4 linked regions of the Homo sapiens genome follow. The protein of the gene in region 1 purifies or fractionates together with the protein of each later gene. This does not show direct contact. Each region holds a gene or a part of one and is shown in the gene's direction. Other genes may lie near its edges.

What was found. Proteins that work in one complex are often made in the same cells at the same time.
Region 2: the proteins of MTRF1 (region 1) and C1orf21 purify together in Homo sapiens (affinity purification with mass spectrometry; one large-scale study listed by BioGRID and IntAct). This does not show direct contact.
Region 3: the proteins of MTRF1 (region 1) and ABHD18 purify together in Homo sapiens (affinity purification with mass spectrometry; one large-scale study listed by BioGRID and IntAct). This does not show direct contact.
Region 4: the proteins of MTRF1 (region 1) and ATF7IP purify together in Homo sapiens (affinity purification with mass spectrometry; one large-scale study listed by BioGRID and IntAct). This does not show direct contact.

The regions. Positions count from the first base shown.
Region 1 is NC_000013.11:41,256,998-41,260,589, reverse strand, and holds part of MTRF1 (peptide chain release factor 1, mitochondrial), read left to right. Parts: coding exon 1-97; intron 98-3,592. UniProt on the Homo sapiens protein: Mitochondrial peptide chain release factor that directs the termination of translation in response to the peptide chain non-canonical stop codons AGG and AGA.
Region 2 is NC_000001.11:184,385,752-184,389,920, forward strand, and holds the start of C1orf21 (uncharacterized protein C1orf21), read left to right. Parts: upstream 1-1,277; 5' UTR 1,278-1,617; intron 1,618-4,169.
Region 3 is NC_000004.12:128,027,906-128,031,497, forward strand, and holds part of ABHD18 (protein ABHD18), read left to right. Parts: intron 1-569; coding exon 570-948; intron 949-2,604; coding exon 2,605-2,767; coding exon of another isoform or gene 2,768-2,771; exon of another isoform or gene 2,772-3,592.
Region 4 is NC_000012.12:14,424,682-14,428,273, forward strand, and holds part of ATF7IP (activating transcription factor 7-interacting protein 1), read left to right. Parts: coding exon 1-792; intron 793-3,592. UniProt on the Homo sapiens protein: Recruiter that couples transcriptional factors to general transcription apparatus and thereby modulates transcription regulation and chromatin formation. Can both act as an activator or a repressor depending on the context.

The DNA.
Region 1 (3,592 bases):
AACAGAAGGCATGCTGAGTTGGCACCTCTTGCAGCCATTTACCAAGAAATTCAGGAGACTGAACAAGCAATTGAAGAATTAGAATCAATGTGTAAAAGTAGGTAAAAGATACTTATGTGTCCTGCATAAGGGCTATGAAAAAAAAAACCACACACTTATATGCGTGTGTGTAAGTACAGATTTGATTTTCTAAGTTAAAGCTTTATTGAACTTAGTCTTTGTTTTTTTTTTCCCACAGAAGCAGGTTCTCACTTGTTGCCCAGGCAGGAGTGCAGTGACTCAATCGTAGCTCACTGTAACCTGTAAGTCCTGGCCCCCCACTTCAGCATCCTGAGTAGCTAGGACTATTGTGCCAGGGCTTTCCAAAGCGATATGATTATAGCCACCGAGCCACTGAGGCTGGCCTGAACTCAGTCTTTTAAAAAAACCTACAAGTAATAAGCTCAACACTTGGAAAGAACAGGACTCTGTACCCAGAGTATTTGACACACTTTAGCTACTAAAGATCAATGTACTAAGTAAACAGGCTCCTCGTGGTACTTCCCGTGGTCTCAAGGTCTGGGAGACAAAATGTTGGTCTTTTCAGAAGCTTTATTTTATTGAGCAGACCTTTATTGAACACTGTACCTACATACTAGGGCTACACATACAGTTCCTACCCCATCAGTGGGCTTCTATGGTCCAGTGAGAGAAACTTATTTAAGTATTGTTTATAATGTGAGACCTGCTCTACTAGAGGGAGGCACAGTTTCATGGGAGCAAAGAGGAGAGGGCACTCAAACCAGCCTGGATTGATTGGGTAAATCTTCCTGGAGGGGACTGCGCATTAGTGGAACCAGGAAGGAAGCTTTTATTTTTTATTTTTATGTTTTTTTTTTTTTTTTTTTTGAGACGGAGTCTCGCTCTGTCGCCCAGGCTGGAGTGCAGTGGCGGGATCTCGGCTCACTGCAAGCTCCGCCTCCCGGGTTCACGCCATTCTCCTGCCTCAGCCTCCCAAGTAGCTGGGACTACAGGCCCCTGCCACCATGCCCAGCTAATTTTTTTTGTATTTCAGTAGAGACGGGGTTTCACCATGTTGGCCAGGCTGGTCTCAAACTCCTGATCTCAAGTGATCCACCCACCTTGGCCTCCCAATGTGCTGGGATTACAGGCATGAGCCACCATGCCCAGCCAGTACTTTATTTCTTTTCATTACTGAATTATATTCCATTGTATGGATATACCACATTTTATTTATCCATTCATCAGTTGATGAACATTGAGTTGTTTCCACTTTTTGGTTATTATAAATAACGATACTGTGAACTTTTGTGTACAAGTTGTTTTGTGGACATAGATTGCTGGTTCATGTGGTAACTCTATGTTTAACCTTTTGAGGAAGTGCTAGACTGTTTTCCAAAGTGACTATAACGATTTTACAGCTCTACACACAGTGTATGAGGGTTCATATTTCTCCACGTACTTGCCAACACTTATTATCCGCCCTTTCAATTATTGCCATCCTATGAATGTGAAGTGGTGTGTTATTGTGGTTTTGATTTGCATTTTCCTGAAGATTAATGATGTTGAGCATCTTTTCTGGTGCTTATTTGGCCATTTGTGTATCATCTTGGGAGAAATCACTGTTCAGATCCTTTGCCAGTTTTTAAATTTAATTGTCTTTTCATTATTGAGTTGTGAGTGGTCTTTATCTTCTAGGTAAAAGTCCATGATCAGATATATGATTTGCAAAAATTTCCCATTCTGTGGTTTTCTCTTCACTTTTTTGATACTGTCTTTTGAAGCATGATATTTTTAAATTTTGATGATGTCCAATTTATCTTTTTTTCTCTTGTTGCTTGAGTTTTGGGAGTCGTATCTAAGAAAATTGCCTAATCTAAGGGCACAAAGGTTTACATCTGTGTTTTCTTACAAGACTGACGTATTTTTTATTTTTATCCCATGCATTTAGGTCTTTGATCTATTTTAGTTATTTTTGTATATGGTGTATTTATTTTTTATGTTTTTTTTTTTTGTTTTTTTTTTTAAGAGATGGTCCCTCACTCAAACTCCGGGGCTCAAACAATCCTCCTGCCTCAGCCTTCTGAGTAGCTGGGACTACCGGCTATTTTTTATCTTAGTTTTTTATTTTAGTATTTCTCAATACTGCTATTGCCTCTACATTTTTTCTCTTATGAAAATTTTCGAAAATTTTTATACAGAAGTTGAGAGAAAAGTTTAATGAACTAACCTATGATTCAACATTTATCCAGATTTGGCTATTAACTTTTAGTTTCTAGATTTTCTTCTGTGCTTCATTTTGTTTCATTTAGCCTTAGCAGTATTATGTGATACACAGGCCAGTCACTGTTATACCTGTAAAGTCCTGGATTTTTGAAGCCTTCCATTTTTCTGCCTTCTATTGATGGTACCACAAGTCTCTTACGTACGTTTAATGGAGATATTTTTTACTCTTTTGCATAATGCCACACAGATTTGTAGTTAATTAGTTTTGAGAAGGTTGCTTGTGTATAGTAGAAGTTTATGAAATGCATTCTAATTAAATTGGCATAACTTCTTTCAGCCTTGGTTGTATCATGTATAATATTAGATTGGATTACATCATTTCTAAAGGCTCTACTACCTCTACAATTTTTCTATAATAATAGTAATAATAGCTACATTTACAAAGTCCTCTTATGTGCTAGGCACTAAGCTCAGTGCTTTACAAATATTATCTCATTTGAATGCTCAGGTAACCTTATGAGGTAGGATATATGATTATTCCCCCTCCCCCTTTTTGTTTCTTTTAAGAGACAGAGTCTTGCTCTGTGGCCCAGGCTGGAATGCAGTAGTGTAATCATAGCTCACTTTAACCTTGAACTCCTGGACTCAAGCAATCCTCCAACCTCAGCCTCCCAAGTAGCTGGGACTACAGGTGTGTGCAACCATTCCCAGCTATTTTTTTTATTTTTAGTAAAGATGAGGTCTCACTGTGTTGCCCAGCCTGTGTTTTCCCTCATTTTATACATTTTATAGATGAGGACATTGAAAGGTTAAATTTGCAAAGATCACTCAGCCAGCGAGGGGAGAAGCAAGGATTTGAACCCAAGCAATGAGATTCCAAAGCCTCTGCTCTTATCCACTGCTTGATGGATGATTCAAAGTCCAGCAGGGTCTACCTTTGTGATGTAGCTTGCATGAGTCCTGTTCTATTCCTTCCACTAATTTATATCTTCATTACATCTCTGACTTAGCTGATTGCAATCAATTCCTAACTTGTAGCCCTACCTCTAGGCGTTCTAGTTCAAGTACAATCTTATTCATGTTACTCACCTGTTCCCATTGTCTATAAGTAGAGATTTCTTGGTTTGGTATTTAAAAGCCCCTGCAGATTAACCCCAGCCTCTCCATGTACTATGTTAATTCTCTTTGCATATTCTGCCTTCCAACCAAAATAGACAACTTGCCATTCTCTGGATATATTCGTGCTGTCCCATGTCTGTATCTTTGCCCACGTTGTTAACATGCCTGGTTCACCTTGTTAAAAGCCAGTCCTCTTACAAAGCTTGGCTGAGATGTCATACTTTGGCTTCAGTACCCTTTGCAAAAC
Region 2 (4,169 bases), on another chromosome or scaffold:
GTGGGATACTAGTCTTTTAATTTGAAAAAAAAAGGGGTGGAGAAAGGGAAAACCAGTTTTCAAAAAAGGCCAATTTCCTAGACATTAGTGGTTGATTACTAACTCATTTCATTAAACTAAATTATGAATTGGCTTTTCTCGTCAGTGTCACCACTCTGATGGCGTTCTTTTCCATTTTCCATCTTCACCCTGGCCGAATGTGGGAAATGATCTGGTTTGTGCATAATCCGCGAGGCCCAGGGAGGATCTTTTGCCCCTATTGTTTTCTTGGGTGTTCTCACTCTGGGGGCCTGACATTCCTCGCGTGTCTAAGGCAATGAGGGAGCAGTGAAGCGCGGGGAAGCCGCACAAAAGACATCCAAAGGCTATCAATGGAAAAAGATCAATTAGGTGCACACAAGAAACACCCAATATGCCAGGGAAGAGAAAAATACCCTTTTCCAGAGGGTGGGAAATTGATTGAGCTTCTGTGAGGGTCCACAAAGAACTGGACGGATGCAGTGGTGGATGGCGATCTCTCTGGACCACTCCGGACGCGCCCAGCAGACGCAGCCTACGCCTTTAGGTCCTAGGAGGCTGAGAAGGGTGGGGAGAGGGGGGCAGCACGATCTTGTGTCTTTCCTCCCCGTGCCGCCTCTACCGAATCGCGGATGCTTCATTAATCTTGCAGGCGCCGCAGCTCGGGTCAGTATGGAGGCGGATCGGTGGCAGAGCCCGGGCCTCTGGGCTGCGCCCGCCCGTTCAGCCTGGCCCGGGAGGGGAGCGGCCGCGCGGTGGGCCAAAGACGCCCGGCCTTCCCTCCGTCTGCTTCCAGCAGGCACAGCCGGGAGGCTGGGCTCAGGGGCTGACCCGAATCTCCCCTAGAGCTGGGCCCACCCGGCTGCCCCCCGAGCAGCCTCGCCGCTCCCACGCCACCGCCCAAGTGACAGGCCCGGGAAGGCCGGACGGGACGCAGTCTTCCCGCCGGGGTCTTCCCTCCGGCTGGCCGGCCGCTGCAGGGCGCGCGCGCACACACGTACACACACACACACACCTGCCCACACACACACACACACACACACACACACACTGCCGCCTCCTTCCCGCCCCGCAGCCCTAGCAGCCCCCAACCCGCTCCCCAGCGCGCTGCGCCCCGGCGGCCTCCGCAGGCCCCGCCCCGGGGAGGAGAGCCAGGCGCGCGCGGGAGCTAGGCTCGGGGAGGGGCCGGCGGTGGGGGAGTGTCTGCTGCCCCCGCCCCTCGAGTGAGTGACTGAGCGAGGAGCTCCCCTCCCTCGCTCGCTCCTCGCAAGCTCCCGCTCGCTCCCTGCCCACTCCCGGGGGGACGTTCCGTGCCGCGGCCGCCGCGGCCGCTGCTTCTTTCACACTTTAGTTGGGAGCTGCGCGCCGCGCTCAGTTACTGGAGAGCTGGCCGCGCGCCGCCGCCTCCCGCACGCTTGCACGCGGGCCCGGCTTCGGGGTTTTGGGTTCTTACTCCAAGCGGCGGGGAGGAGGGGGAGCCCCGGACACACTGTGGGGAGGAGGAGGAAGAAGAGGAGGAGGGAGGAAGAAAAAAGACGAGGAGGACAGGGGCGGGGGGCGGGAGGCTTGCCACCTTCAGCCCCCCCGCGAACGCCCAAGGTAAGTGTGAGCCATTGCCTGCTCTGGGGCGGGGGGAGCTGGCGGTGCAGCCCGCCCCGGCTCGGCTACCCGGGCATCCCCGGGTGGGCAGGGAGGGAGGCCTGCGGGGTGTCTGCCGCACGGAAGGGATGGGAGCCGCGGTCGTGGCGCTGCCTGCGCGGGGCCCGGGCCGGGGCTGCTGCTGGTGCGGGGCTGGCGGGGTTGCTGCCAGGGACGGAAGCTGGGGTGGGGGAGCCGCGAGGGGCGTCTGCCGGCCTGGGCGGAGGGGCTGGGATGTGGTCGGGGCTGCTGACGACTTTCGTCACATCGAGGCCTGGGTGGCTGGTGTTAGACACCCCTCCCTTCCCACCCGCACCCTGCCGCCCTCAGCCTTCCTGCTCTCCTCTAGCTTTGCATGTAGCCACCGTACTTTGCAAGCCAGAGCTTGAAAGGAAAAACACAATTTAGGATCCTTTGCTAAGTATCCAAGTCCCTTCTCTCGCTCCGACTGATTGATGTGTTTGTGTGGGTGGTTTGACCCCCGGGATTTCTGAAGTTTTGACCTTTTTGGGGTGGCTCGTTTCGTTGCATCTGTTTGCCCACCTCGGTGTATTTATTATTCGTGCCCATGCGAGGCAGCCAGAGGGTGCTTGGTTATTGTACACGAAACAGATTTCACTCTCCTCTGCAGGCAGTTCGCGAAGTGCCGCCGCCGCGGCTGCCTTTGGTCTGCTGGTTAATGTCCTTTCCCTATCATCCACCCTGCTCCCTCCCTCTACGGAGGGTTAGTTTTTGTTTTTGTTTTTGTTTTTTCCTTTCCACTTACTGTTTGTGTGAGAGAAGTCCTGGGCTTAAGGGCTCTCAGCACTCGTTCATTTCTCTTCTAAAGCTCTGAATGGCTCAGGCATGTCGGTAAAATTTGGGGTGGTCCTCTTTGCTCCAAGAGTTGCATGGCCAAAGATAAAAATATGCACACATAAACACGCATTAATTCTGAGAGACGGCAAGCAGTTTGAGAGAGAAATAATTTGTTTTCAATAGGAAGTCGGTGACCTATGGGATCTCTTCCATTGCCGGTGGGTTAGGAAAATTGTTTTAAAATAGATAGTGCTTGTGTTGTCCGTGGCTGGAAGACAGCCATAGTTCAGTTACTGAAGCAATTCTGAAAGTGATACACCCTGGGCACCCAGAACCTCAGTAAAGACACACGTAGTCTGACTCAGATGTTAGGAAGGGGACTGACACACCATAGATTCCATGGAGTATTTTTTTCTTTCTTTTCTTTTTTTTTTTTGTAGGAGACTGTCCAGACCGTTTGGGGAAATGACAAGTTCATTACACAGACAGATGTAATGAACACCTCCCTATTCAAGGGGATGGGTTCAGCTTCTGCCTAATAGGAATAACCTTTTGATTTGATAGAATTGGAATGTACCAGGATAGAAACAAACATAGGTGGAGTGGGCCTGAGCTACTTCAGCACTGTTGTGGGGAGAAGGTGATGTTTCTGAAGGGTCTTTTAAGTTCAAGATGCTGAATTTGGAGTTTTCCCCCCTTTTTCATATTGTCTAGAGCTGGATTGTAGGATCAATAGAACATGTTCCATGTTGGCTGTTTGGAAATGTAATTGTCAGACATGGAAATTAATTTGGATTGGATCACCTATTTTTGTTTTGCTACTTACAAAGTAGGAAGTACCAGTGATAGGACAACGGAGTGTATTTATAGGCGTTAAACCAATGCTGGGACTGGTACTTCACAGATCACAAATGCAGCGTTGAAAGAGGATGTCACTCAATGTTTACTGCTGTGCAAACCTGCTTCAGAGAACAGTCCTGGAGGCTTCTAAAAAGGGCAACAAAGACCAGTGCGCTCAGCTCTTGGGTGGGTGGGTGCCTGAGGAGGGGCGGGGTGCTTCTGTTGTCTAGCTTTGTCACAACTGGGCATGTTTCCAAAGAAAAATGGCCTTGGGTGGTAGAGAGGTCTCACATCCTCCAGTGTTAAAAGTTCATCCTAGAAGGACCTTAAAGTTCCAGCTTTCCTTCTCAGGGTTGACTTAATTTAACTCCGAGTTTAGAAAACTGATAATTTTGTTTTCTTGGCTAGACATTTATCCCTCCTCCGCCCCATCTCACTTTATCATTCAACATGGGTTTCTGGGAATTAATAGGCCACTGTCTGAAGGGGTTTGATTCTTGAAGAATCACAGGGCATCATTCAAGAGCTTTGGTACTATTTGCTATGACTTATTCAAAAATCCTACTAAGGAGGAAGGTGGTTTGCTCTATTATAATTTCCAAGTGAATCATGCCTCAGTACTGTGTTGCCTTTGTGACCAGGCAAGCTTTGAGTTTTACATTCTGAGTGGCTTGCTCCAGGCTCTAAGCAGCCCCCTTCTATAAGACGTTTTTTTGTTTTTGTTTTTTGTTTGTTTGTTTTTGTCTAAAGGAGACACCAAAGGCTGGGAGAGGGAATGTCATGTCACCTTCCAATAGGGCAGGAGAAGGCAGGTGACATATTTACAGAAGAGTCCTAAGGTGATAAATATGACTGTCTTCATTTGAATTTATCAA
Region 3 (3,592 bases), on another chromosome or scaffold:
ATAAAGTGTAAGTCATTTATCTTAGTCGTGAGTTAAATTTTAATACATCTTTGTTTTTTAAAAAAGTCATGGTAAATATATACAACATAAAATTTACTATCATAACCATTTTTAAGTGCATAGTTCAGTGGCATTAAGTATATACATGTTGTGCAACCATCACCACCATCTATCTCCAAAACATTTTTATCTTCTCAAACTGAAACTTACCCATTGAACAAAACTATTCATTCCTCCCTTCTCCCAGTCTCTGGCAACTGCCATTCTCTTTCCATCGCTATGAATTTTACTACTATAGGGACCTCATACAAGTGGAATCATACAATATTTGTCCTTTTGTGTCTGGCTTATTCACTTAAGATAATGTCTTCAGTGTTCATCCATGTTGTGGCATGTGTCAGAATTTCATTCCTTTTAAGACTGCATAATGTTTAATTGTTTGAATATACTACATTTTATTTATCCATTTATTCATTGATGGACATTTGTCTTTTCTCTTTTTTTTTTGACAAAGCTGTTAATACCCTATTTTATATTAAATAATGTTTTCTTTCCTTTCATATGTTCAGACAGATTCTTTCAAAATGGGACAAGAGTTTGTGAAACACTTCACTAGCAGTGCAGACAAGCTAACTAACCTTAATCTGGTTTCCAGAACTTTAAATTTAGATATATCAAACCAAGTTGTATCCCAAAAACCTGCTGACTGCCATAATTCTAGCAAAACATCTGTCAGTGCGACATCAGAAGGACTCTTATTGCAAGATACCTCTAAGATGAAGCGCTTCAATCAAACACTTTCAACCAACAAAAGTGGTTATACAAGTCGCAACCCTCAGTCATACCACCTACTTAGTAAAGAACAAAGCAGAAACAGTCTTCGGAAAGAGTCTTTAATATTTATGAAAGGAGTCATGGATGAATGTACTCATGTAGCAAATTTCTCAGGTACTAATTTTTATATGAAATTGAGAATATTTGCTGATGTGTAAGTATTTGTGAAATATTTTAAAAGATGCTCTATAAGATAATTTTATATTTTCAAGGGTATATTTTTTTGTTGGCTCCAGAATATGTTTGCAAAGATAAGTTGGTTACTTAAATGTATCATATTCTATCTATGAAAATTTAAGATTATCTTATTCATTAAGAAACACACTGGACAGCCGGGTGTGGTTGCTCATGCCTGTAATCCCAGCATTTTGGGAGGCTGAGGCAGGTGGATTGCTTGAGCCCAGGAGTTCAAGACCAGCCTGGGTAACATGGTAAAACCCTGTCTCTACCAAAAAAAAAAATACAAAAAAGTAGTCATGTGTGGTGTTGCAAGCCTGTAGTTCCAGCTACTTGGGAGGCTGAAGTGGAAGGATCGCTTCAGCCCAAGGAGTTGGAGGTTGCAGTGAGCCAAGATCACACCACTGCACTCCATCCTGGGTGACAGCAAGACTCTCACACACACACACAAACACACATACACACACTCTCACACACTCTGGAGCTGGACACAGTGGCTCACGCCTATAATCCTAGCACTTTGGGAGGCTGCGGTGGGAGGACCGCTTGAGCCCAGGAGTTTGACACCAGCCCGGGCAACATAGTGAGACCCTGTCCTTATCAAAAATGTAAAAATTAGCTGGGTGGCCGGGCCCAGTGGATCACGCCTGTAATCCCAGTGCTTTGGGAGGCCAAGGCGGGTGGATCACTTGAGGTCAGGAGTTTGAGACCATCCTGGCCAACATGGTGAAACCTCATCTCTACCAAAAATATAAAAAATTAGTTGGGCGTAATGGTGTGTGCCTGTAATCCCAGCTACTCAGGAGGCTGAGGCAGGAGAATCATTTGAACCCGGGAGGTGGAGGTTGCAGTGAGCAGAGATCATGCCACTGCACTCAGCCTGAGTGACAGAGTGAGACTCCATCTCAAAAACAAAAATAAATTAGCTGGGTGTGGTGGCATATGCTTATAGTCCCATCTACTCAGAGGCTGAGGCAGGAGGATCCCTTGAGCCCAGGAATTCAAGGTGGCACTGAGCTATGATTGCACCACTGCACCCTAGCCTCGGTGACAAAGTGAAACTCTTATCTCCCAAAAGAAAAACACTGGATTGCTGAGTGTGGTGGCATTCACCTGTAGTCCCAGCTACTCAGGAAGTTAAGGAGGGAGGATCACTTGAGCCCAGGAGTTCAAGGCTGTAGTGCACTATGATCTTGCCAATGAATAGCCACTGCATTTCAGCCTGGGCAATACAGTGAGATCCCATCTTTAAAATAAATGATTGAGGCGATGCATACCTTACGTACTCTGATGTGATTATTATGCATTGCATGCCCGTATCAAAATATCTCATGTAACCCATAAATATATACACCTACTGTGTACCCACACCCACACAAAAGAAATAAATTAGTTAATTTTTAAAAACCACAGTATTTTGTATCATTTTTAGAATATTTATCTCGTACTGGAGATGAGTAAGGTAGCATATTATAGTTGATTTTTAATTTAATCAAAAATGTTTAGTTTGACGAATGTTTTATTTACTGCATTGTGTGGGTTTTTTTATTTTCTAATGTGTATATGTTGAATTTTTAAAAATCCTATACCTAGTCCCAGTTGATCCAAGCCTCATTATAGTGGTTCAAGCCAAAGAAGATGCCTATATTCCACGAACAGGAGTTCGAAGTTTACAAGAAATTTGGCCTGGTTGTGAAATCCGATACTTAGAAGGGGGTCATATTAGTGCTTATCTTTTTAAACAAGGACTCTTCAGGTAAGACGGCTGGTCTAAACATGTATTCGTTCATTTGTTGTTTGTTTTCTGGATTTTTTGCTTCAACAAATGTAAAAGATCACATATTTTTATAGTCTGTTTCAATCTTTGAATTCCCTCCTCACCTCCCACAAATCTCACAGAGTTACTTTTCCCTCTTTCCTAGAATTTGATCTTCTTATTTTCTTCTAGAGAACTAAGCATGATGCATATTATAGGCATGCTTTATCGTGTGGCTTTCCCCTCTTCAAATATTAATGGCCAGGTATTTTAGGATGTGAGAAGGAAGATCATGGCTTGTTAAAGTTGCTTTGGTGCATCAAGAGTTTTTTCACTCTATTCTGATGTTTTTTCAGAATGGCCTGAACATCTGTGGAATAATTTAGCAATGTTTTTCAGTTAGCAAGTGAATATTGAACCTTAAATAAGAAGTGCTTTTAATGTGAACAACCTTATATGACTCCACTATTTTAGTTAGAACTTATAAAAACTTTTATGCTGGCTGGGCGCGGTGGCTTACGCCTGTAATCCCAGCACTTTGGGAGGCGGAGGCGGGTGTATCACGAGGTCAGGAGATCAAGGCCATCCTGGCTAACACGGTGAAACCCCGTCTCTAGTAAAAATACAAAAAAAAAAAAAAAAAAGTAGCCGGGCATAGGTGGTGCATGTCTGTAGTCCCAGCTACTTGGGAAGCTGAGGCAGGAGAATGGCATAAAACCCGGGAGGCGGAGCTTGCAGTGAGCCGAGATCACGCCACTGCACTTCAGCCTGGGAGACAGAGCGAGACTCCGTCTCAAAAAAAAAAATTTTTTTATGCTAAAACTA
Region 4 (3,592 bases), on another chromosome or scaffold:
CTGGTGATCTATCCTCTAGTGAACTGGCCTCTGATGATCTGGCCACTGGTGAACTGGCCTCTGATGAGCTGACTTCTGAATCAACCTTTGATCGTACCTTTGAACCAAAGTCTGTACCAGTTTGTGAACCAGTTCCTGAAATTGACAATATAGAACCAAGTAGCAATAAAGATGATGATTTTCTTGAAAAAAATGGAGCTGATGAAAAATTAGAGCAAATTCAGAGTAAAGACTCATTGGATGAGAAAAATAAAGCTGATAATAATATTGATGCTAATGAAGAAACTCTAGAAACAGATGATACAACTATTTGTTCAGATCGACCTCCTGAAAATGAAAAGAAGGTAGAGGAAGATATTATCACAGAGCTTGCTCTTGGAGAAGATGCTATATCTAGCAGTATGGAAATTGACCAAGGTGAAAAGAATGAAGATGAAACTTCTGCAGATCTTGTAGAAACGATTAATGAAAATGTTATTGAAGATAACAAAAGTGAGAATATCTTAGAAAATACAGACTCTATGGAGACAGATGAAATCATTCCTATTTTGGAAAAGCTTGCACCTTCTGAGGATGAACTTACTTGCTTTTCTAAAACATCTCTCCTTCCAATCGATGAGACAAATCCAGATTTGGAAGAGAAAATGGAAAGTTCTTTTGGTTCACCATCTAAACAAGAAAGTAGTGAGAGTTTGCCAAAAGAAGCCTTTCTGGTCCTCTCTGATGAAGAGGATATTTCGGGTGAAAAAGATGAGTCTGAAGTTATATCGCAAAATGAAACGTGCTCTCCAGGTTAGCATATAACTTAAATGTTAAAGATTTTTTATTGACTTTGATGAACTGTTTAATAAAACATTATCATAATGTTTTAAATTTATTTTAGCTGCAGAGAAAGTTGAGAATGGTGATGACTCTATAGAAAGATGTCTTAACTTCATAGAATTCAGAATTAGTGTGTGTACTCTGTGAGTAGCATTGTACTAAATACTAAGAAGGGAGATAAAATAAGTAGAAAATATGCCCTTATAGTCTGGAAATAGAGATGAAGTAGAGCACCATAACACTGAGATAACAGTTTAAGTTAGTACATAATTGACTAGAGTTGTAGCAGTTCTTTCTTGCTATCACTTAGCGAACAAATAACTTAGAACTAAAAGCCTAATAGTTTAATCTATTTGCTTCAAGTGTAACAAATTATATTTTCAATTAATATTCCCAATGAAATCCTGTTCTTTAATATTCTTTGTCCAGGAATGACAGCACCATTGTTGTAAGCCAGAAACCTTAAAGCTTGATTATCCATTTGATAAAGACTTTACCCATTTGCTCCCTCAGCCCTTTTGATTCTACCCAACCTATTCTCTTCCTCATTTTCTGAATGAGCTCCCTGTAACCCAATTCTCTTATTTGATATTGTCCGTCTATGTCTTAGATCTCTGTTACTTTTAGGTTGATTTCAAACTCCTTATGTAAAAGGTACATTAACTTTATGATTTGTTCAGTACCTATCTCTCCCATCTCTTTTATTTTATTTATTATTCCTAGAGAAAAAGAATGAGAAAAATTCTACCTTCTTTTATGGTCAAACTGAAAAACATTATTCCTCTATGAAACTTTCTAAGCCTGTGGAAGACTGAGAAAAGCATGAATACCTTTCTTTTCCCATTATATCACATTCTTTTAGATTTAGACATCTCTGAGAGAAGTGACCTTGCTAGCATAAAACACCATCTAATTTCTTCAAAGAAAAAAAAATGGAGGCAGGTCTAAGAGACAGAGACAACTTTTTTCCCCAATATATCATACCAGCTTTTGGAGGTAGAGATTTTTTTCTTATTAAAAAATGGCTTTTTTTTTTTTTTTGGCCAGGTAAGGTGGCTCACACCTATAATCCTAGGACTTTGGGAGGCTGAGGCAGGCAGATTGCTTGAGCTCAGGAGTTCGAGACCAGCCTGGGCAACATGGTGAGACCCCGTCTCTACAAAAGTACAAAAATTAGCCAGGCGTGGTGGCACTTGTCTGTAGTCCAGGGTACTTGAGGGCCTGAGGTAGGGGGATCACTTGAACCTGGGTGGTCGAGGCTGCAGTGAGCCGAGATCGCGCCACTACTCCAGCCTGGGTGACAAAGTAAGACCCTGCCTCAAAAAAAAAAAAAAAAAAAAAAAAAAAGGATGGCTTTTTATTTTCAAAGAGCATTCAACTAAACCTATATAAAGAGACAGGCCAGGCCCTTCTTGGTTCTAGAGATTTGAAGATAGTATTTGCCCTCAGGATACACACAAGAATTAAATCATAGGCCATTAAATACAAGACTGTGAGTACAGTGATAATGTTAAATTGGCATTCTGGGAGTGCAGATTAAGGTAACTTTATTAGAGCACCAGATGTATTAGGGATGTCTTGCCCCTTTTAATATCTGTATAACAGAGGTTTTTTTTGTTTGCTTGTTTTTGTTTTGTGAGACAGAGTCTTGCTCTGTTGCCCAGGCTGGAGTACAGTGGCACAATCATAGCTCACTGCAGCTTCCACTTTACTGGCTTAGGTGATCCTCCCACCTAAGCCCCCAGAGTACCTGGGAATACAGACATGTGCCACCACACTTGGCAAAATTTTAATTTTTTTGTAGAGACAGGGTCTTGCTATATTGGCTCTGCTGTAACATAGGGTTTTAATGAGTCTAATTCTTTTTTTTTTTTTCCGAGATGGAGTCTCGCTCTGTTGCCCCGGCTGGAGTGCAGTGGCACGATCTTGGCTCACTGCAACCTCCGCCTCCCGGGTTCAAGTGATTCTCCTCCCCACTCCGCCTCCTGCGTAGCTGGGATTATAGGTGCGCGACACCACGCCTGGCTAATTTTTGTATTTTTAGTAGAGTCGGGGTTTCATCATGTTGGTCAGGCTGGTCTCAAACTCCTGACCTCGTGATCCTCCTGCCTCAGCCTCCCAAAGTGCTGGGATTACAAGCGTGAGCCACCGCGTCTGGCCAAGTCTAATTCCTTTTAATGGCAGCTCCATCCTACTTGCTGAGGCCAGAAACTTTGGAACCATTTTTATTTTTTCTTTCACACCCCATAATTAGTCCATCAGGAAATTCTGTTGGTACTACTATCATAATAGATCTAGAGTCCAATTCACAACTGTTATTACTCCTGCTGCGAGTCACCATCATCAGGCCAAAACGGTGCCTGGCACACAGTAAGTGCCCAGTAAATATTTGTAAAGTGAATGAATAATCAATAATGTAAGAGAAGCATATCATGGAGGACCTTGGTTATAATGCTAAAGCTTTATGATGGCGCTGGAATGCCAATAAAGAACTTCAAGCAGAGAGGAGAATGAAATTTACATTTTGGAAAGGTAATAGGTGACAGTGTTGAGAATGAATTTCATCCATTTCCTATAAGTGTCTATACAGAGTGTGGCACTAGGCCAAGTCCATAAAAAAGCCTTATAAGTCCTTTAAAAAAAAAAAGTCTGTATAAGAAAGTTAAAAAAGCAAATTGCAGCTTATGATTTAATGAGTACCTTTATGTCAGAATCTTGATATTGGAGGGCATCCCACACAAGGCAGTTAAGTGCTGAGAGATGAATATTA